Linked DNA regions of Homo sapiens: region 1 is linked to region 2. The links come from fine-mapping of genetic effects on gene expression. A gene starts in region 2. The other region holds a variant in brackets. All regions are shown on one strand. Distances are from middle to middle.

Region 1 (2,906 bases), 22 kb after region 2:
ATTATTCCCGTATCATCTTGGTTATTATTCCAATCACTCTTCATTCTCCAGACTTTTTTTCTTTTTCTTTTTCTTTTTCTTTTTTTTTTTTTATTTGAGGCAGAGTCTCCCTCAGTCATCCAGGCTGGAGTACAGTGGCACAATCTCGGCTCACTGCAGCCTCTGCCTCCTGGGTTCAAGCGATTCTCCTGCCTCAGCCTCCCAAGTAGTTGGGATTACAGGCGCCTGCCACCACGCCCAGCTAATTTTTGTCTTTTCAATAGAGACAGGGTTTCACCATGTTGGCCAGGCTGGTCTCCAACTCCTGACCTCAAGTGATCTGCCCACCTCGGCCCCCAAAAGTGCTGGGATTACAGGTCTCAGCCACCGCTCCTGACCAAGCATGCATTTTTAAGGCCGGGCAAGGTGGCTCAAGCCTGTAATCCTAGCACTTTGGGAAGCGAGGCAGGCGGATCACGAGGTCAGGAGTTCGAGACCAGCCTGGCCAACATGGTGAAACGCCATCTCTACTGAAAATACAAAAAAATTAGCTGGGTGTGTTGGCGCATGCCTGTAATCCCAGCTACTTAGGAGGCTGAGGCAGGAGAATCACTTGACGGAATCTTACTCTGTCACCCAGGCTGCAGTGCAGTGGCTTGATCTCAGCTCACTGCAACCTCTGCCGCCTCGGTTCAAGTGATTCTTGTGCCACACCCTCCCAAGTAGCTGGGACTACAGCCGCGTGCCACCACGCCCGGCTAATTTTTTTGTATTTTTAGTAGAGATAGGGCTTTGCCATGTTGGCCAGGGTGGTCTGGAACTCTTGACCTCAAGTGATCTGCCCCCCTCGGCCTCCCAAAGTGCTGGGATTACAGGTATGAGCCACCATGCCCAGACAAGATAATTAACATGAGATTAAAAAAAAAAAAAATCTAAGGGTAGTGGAGTAAATTTTCCCCAGAATATTCTGTAAAATAAAGAGTGGATTTACTTATAATTCTCCAATTCAGGCTTTTTTTTTTTTTTTTTAGACAAAGTCTCACTCTGTCACCTAGGCTGGAGTGCGGTGGCACAATCTCAGCTCACTGCAACCTCTGCTTCCCAGGTTCAAGCAAATCTCCCTGCCTTAGCCTTCTGAGTAGCTAGGATTACAGGTGCCTGCTACCACGCCCAGCTAATTTTTGTATTTTTTAGTAGAGATGATGTTTCACCATGTTGGCCAGGCTGGTCTCAAACTCCTGACCTCAGGTGATCCGTCCGCCTCAGCCTCCCAAAATGCTGGGATTACAGGCATAAGCCACCATGCCCGGCCCCAATCCAGGCTTTCTAAACCTGTTGCCAAAGATGCATCTGTAGGATCAGATACAAAAAAATTAGCTGGGTGTGGTGGTGCATGCCTGTAATCCCAGCTACTTGGGAGGCTGAGGCAGGAGAATCGCCTGAACCCAGGAGGTGGAGTTTGCAGTGAGCCAAGATCGTGCCATTGCACTCCAGCCTGGGCAACAAGAGCGAAACTCCATCTCAAAAAAAAATAAAGAATAGCAAGGACACCAAGCACCCCCATTCCCGGCCCTGGACTTTGTCCATGTGTTAATGGTGGAGGGTGTCCAGGTTCTTGGCATCTTGAACGAACAATTGGACAAAATGCACAAACAAGGAAGGAATGAAGGGTTTTATTGAAAATGAGCCGGGCGCGGTGGCTCACGCCTGTAATCCCAGCACTTTGGGAGGCTGAGGCGGGCCGATCACAAGATCAGGAGATTGAGACCATCCTGGCTAACACGGTGAAACCCCATCTCTACTAAAAATACAAAAAAATTAGCCAGGCGTGGTGGTGGGCACCTGTAGTCCCAGCT[A/G]CTTGGGAGACTGAGGCAGAATGGTGTGAACCCAGGAGGTGGAGGTTGCAGTGAGCCAAGATTGCGCCACTGCACTCCAGCCTGGGCGACAGAGCGAGACTCCATCCCAAAAAAAAAAAAAAAAAAAAAGACAATGAAAGTACACTCCACAGTGTGGGAGCGAGAATGAGCATAGGGGCTCAAAGGCCCTGTTAAAAATGTTTGTGAGTTTAAATACCCTCTACTTGGGGAATGCCCTATGTAAATGAAGAAGATGAAGTAAAGTTACAATTGCAAAGTTATTAATGATGTATGCCCTAAGGAGAGGATATTTCCTGTTATAGATGAAGTGTGAATTGGCCTTATGTTACCTGCCTCCAGACCCTATTTTCCTGCCTCATCTGCCCCCTGAGATGTGATCCCCATAAATCTTTATGGGAGGCAGAGGGACAGATGGTCTTTTTTCTGTAACTGCTTCATGCTGGCTTGGGGGATGGTCCCCACCTATTAGGGATCATGGAACTCTCACCCTGCTCTGTCTAGTGGAGGCAGGGTAGCTTTTTGATGGCCAGGGGTGATGTCTTCACCTGGAACTGGCTGGAAGCTTTGTTGCATGATCAGCTGAAGCTTGATGGTCTCTAGGCAAGAGGAAATGAATTTGGTTAAAACATTTAATGGGAACTGCAGGGGGTGGATACCTATGCTGTTAGAAATGTTTGTTATATTGACCAGGCGCAGTGGCTTACGTCTGTAATCCCAGCACTTTGGGAGGCCGAGGCAGGCAGATCACGAGGTCAGGAGTTCAGGATCAGCCTGGCCAACATAGTGAAACCCTGTCTCTACTAAATACAAAAAAATTAGCCGGGCGGGGTGGTGCATGCCTGTAATCCTAGCTACTCAGGAGGCTGAGGCAGGAATGTTGCTTGAACCTGGGAGGTGGAGGTTGCAATAAGCTGAGATTGAGCCACTGCACTCCAGTCTGGGGGCGAGGGAGTGAGACTCCGTCTCAGAAAAAAAAAAAAAGAAAGGTTTGTCATAGAGATTTGCAGGAGAAAAAAAACTTGGTCTGTTTTAGAATCTATGTGTTTCCTT
Region 2 (2,906 bases):
ATTACAGGCGTGTGCCACCACGCCCGGCTAACTTTTTGTATCTTTAGTAGAGATGGGGTTTCAGCATCTTGGCCAGGCTGGTCTTGAACTCCTGACCTCGTGATCCACCTACCTCGGCCTTCCAAAGTGCTGGAATTATAGGCGTGAGCCACCAAGCCCGGCCTCCTCTTTATTTTTTATTTTGATTTATTTATTTTTGAGATGGGGGGGGTGTCTCGCTATGTTGACCAGGCTGGTCTCGAACTCCTGGCCTCAAGCAGTTCTCCCTTCTTGGCCTCCCAAAGTGCTGGGATTACAGACATTAGCCACGGCGCCTGGCCTTTTTCTTCTTCTTCTTCTTTGTTGAGACAGGGTCTCAATCTGTTGCCCAGGCTGGTCTCCAACTCCTGGGCTCAGGTGATCCTTCCGCCTCGGCCTCCCAAAGTGCTGGGATTACAGGCGTGAGCCATTAAGTGTTCCCCTTAATGACACAGCAGATGAGAGTTTTACTGAGTATCTCCTTGTGCCAGGCACCCTGTTGTTGCTGGGGAAGCGGAAGGGAGAGACAATCGTTAATCGGCTAAATTTCTGCCTTCTGAGAGCTCAGAATCAAGAAATAAATAATAGGGCAGTAAAAGGGGCTGGGATTACATACAAAAAGAAAATTAATGCCTGAACTTTTTACAATCTGCTCGATAAGCTTTAATTCTATTAACCTATTTGAGCTTCCCAACAACAGGCAAGCTCCCACAGCAGCTAGGAGGATCACTTTGTCGTCATACAAATAGAAACAGGCTCAGAGAGGAAGTCATTTGTTCTAGTTCTCACTAGGACAAATCTACTGGCTACTAAAAAAGTGTGAAGGCTGGGGACAGTTTGAGTCGTCCTGCTTGCACCTTAAGCGCCTACAAGAGTGCCCGGCTATAACAACCACAATACCAATAATAAAATTTAAAAACAGATGTTCAGTAAGGACTTGCGGCATTAGGACCCCAGGAGGGAAGTGACGTTCGAGGAGGCGGAGAAAGCCGCGAAGACGGCCTTCCCCACATCTTCCAGCACCTGCGCGCCTGAATCCGTCCCACCCAGGCCCAGACGCAGGCTTCTTCTCGGGTCTTGGTCCTGCATCCTCTCTCTCCCAGAGCCTCCGTTAGGGGGTGGGAAAGGACTTTGCCATAGGTCGCTGAGGCCACCATCTGCTCTCTTACTGGCCAAGGGCGTAAAAAGATAGTCTTCCCATTAGCTAGAGAGCAAACCCCAGAAAGCCTATTGGCTGCGCCGTCCGCGGGCCTTGGTCCGCTTTGAAGGCGGGCTGCGGCTGCGAGAGGAGGGCGGGCGGGAGGCTAGCTGTTGTCGTGGTTGCTCGGAGGCACGTGTGCAGTCCCGGAAGCGGCGAGGGGAAACTGCTCCGCGCGCGCCGCGGGAGGAGGAACCGCCCGGTCCTTTAGGGTCCGGGCCCGGCCGGGCCATGGATTCAATGCCTGAGCCCGCGTCCCGCTGTCTTCTGCTTCTTCCCTTGCTGCTGCTGCTGCTGCTGCTGCTGCCGGCCCCGGAGCTGGGCCCGAGCCAGGCCGGAGCTGAGGAGAACGACTGGGTTCGCCTGCCCAGCAAATGCGAAGGTGAGGAGGCGGGGCCCGTGGGGCGTATCCTGCCGGAGGGGCTGGCTCCAGCGGTGGTGCTTGCGGAGCAGCGTCGGGGGTTGCAAGGTTCCGAGCTCTGCAGGGTGTCTTCCTTCCTTGAACAGGCTTGCGCCGGGACGCTGCGGCGGACGAGAGATCTGGTCCCGGTACCCCTGGAGTTCACACATTGGTAGAAACAAGCAATGATAATTCAGAGTAGTAGATGCCATGATAGGGGAGGTACAGAGCTTCCTTTTGGGGGCCGGACGAGGAGCATCTGGTCTAGCCTGGAGTGGGGGAGGGGGTGGGCGAAGGCTGTGTGCAGAGGGGAGTCAAAGAGGGCTTCATACAGGAAGCACGAAGAGGCATTAGGAGTTAGCCGGATGAAGAGAAGTGGAAAGAGAGGGGCCCACTCAGGAAACTACAGAGGCAGAGGCCTGCCGGCTGAGAAGCTAAGAACGAGTTTGAGGAACTGAAAAGCTCCAGATGACTCATCTTGGGGGAAAAAAACCTAAGACTTTCCCCTTTTGCCCTCACTGCAACCCAATCTGTGTAGTTGTCTGTTGCACCCACTAACAACTCCTCGAAGGCAGGAATTTTTGTCTTAGATACGTATTCACACAGTGTCTGGTAGGCACTCAATAAATGTTTTGAGAATACAGATGATTAAATGGGAGACTGTGGGTGTGTGTGAGGAGGAGGATCTGGATCTGAGGAGCCCTTTGGGGGAACAATAGAGCCTATGGGGAACTTGAAAGAAGATTTTAGGACTTTGGAGAAAAGGTGAGTCCCAAAGACATAGGCGTTGAGGAACTACAGAGAGAGAGAGAGAGGGAGCTACCAGCGAGCCAGGACTATAAAGGACCTATTTCTTTTTCCTCAACTCCGTCCCTTAGTTTTCTCCTCAGACCTTACAGTCATGCCTGCCTTCCTAGCCCCGTAACCCCAGGGCCCCCAGAAAGTTGGCTGTGAATCTCTCATCTGAATTGAAAGCCTACATCAGGCCAGATGTTCCCTAAACACTGGAAAGTGGGTTTGGGGTAAGTTTCGGACACATAATCCTTCCATTAGAGAGATTAAAAGGATGCTTTAGAGATAAGCCGACTTCACTGGTAGGGCACCCAGTATGAGTTCAAGCCTGTGCCTTCCCCCGTACATTCTTTTCTTTTTTTCCTTTTTTTTTTTTATGAGACTGTCTGGCTCTGTTGCCCAGGCTGGAGTGCAGTGGCGAGATCTCGGCTTATTGCAACCTCTGCCTCCTAGGTTCAAACGATTTTCCTGTCTCAGCCTCCTGAGTAGCTGGGATTA

Evidence for each region. PIP is the estimated chance that this variant, and not a neighbour inherited with it, causes the effect.
Region 1: its variant is the best candidate, but not a certain one, in a credible set for the expression of CNPY3 in whole blood (TOPMed, PIP 0.83).

What each region holds. Positions count from the first base shown.
Region 1 is chr6:42,949,670-42,952,575 of GRCh38, forward strand. The region is part of intron 1 of CNPY3-GNMT (CNPY3-GNMT readthrough); the gene reads left to right. Among named protein-coding and RNA genes, the nearest start is that of GNMT, 9.6 kb to the right of the region's middle. The variant A/G (reference allele first, on the strand shown) is at 1,836.
Region 2 is chr6:42,928,124-42,931,029 of GRCh38, forward strand. CNPY3 (canopy FGF signaling regulator 3) reads left to right here and starts at 1,357. Exons shown (of 6, transcript NM_006586.5): 1 at 1,357-1,598. The coding sequence starts at 1,448. It overlaps CNPY3-GNMT (CNPY3-GNMT readthrough), which reads left to right and starts at 1,357. Exons shown (of 5, transcript NR_134892.2): 1 at 1,357-1,598. RefSeq lists enhancers at 750-1,251, 836-885, 896-945, 1,252-1,753, 1,396-1,655 and 1 more.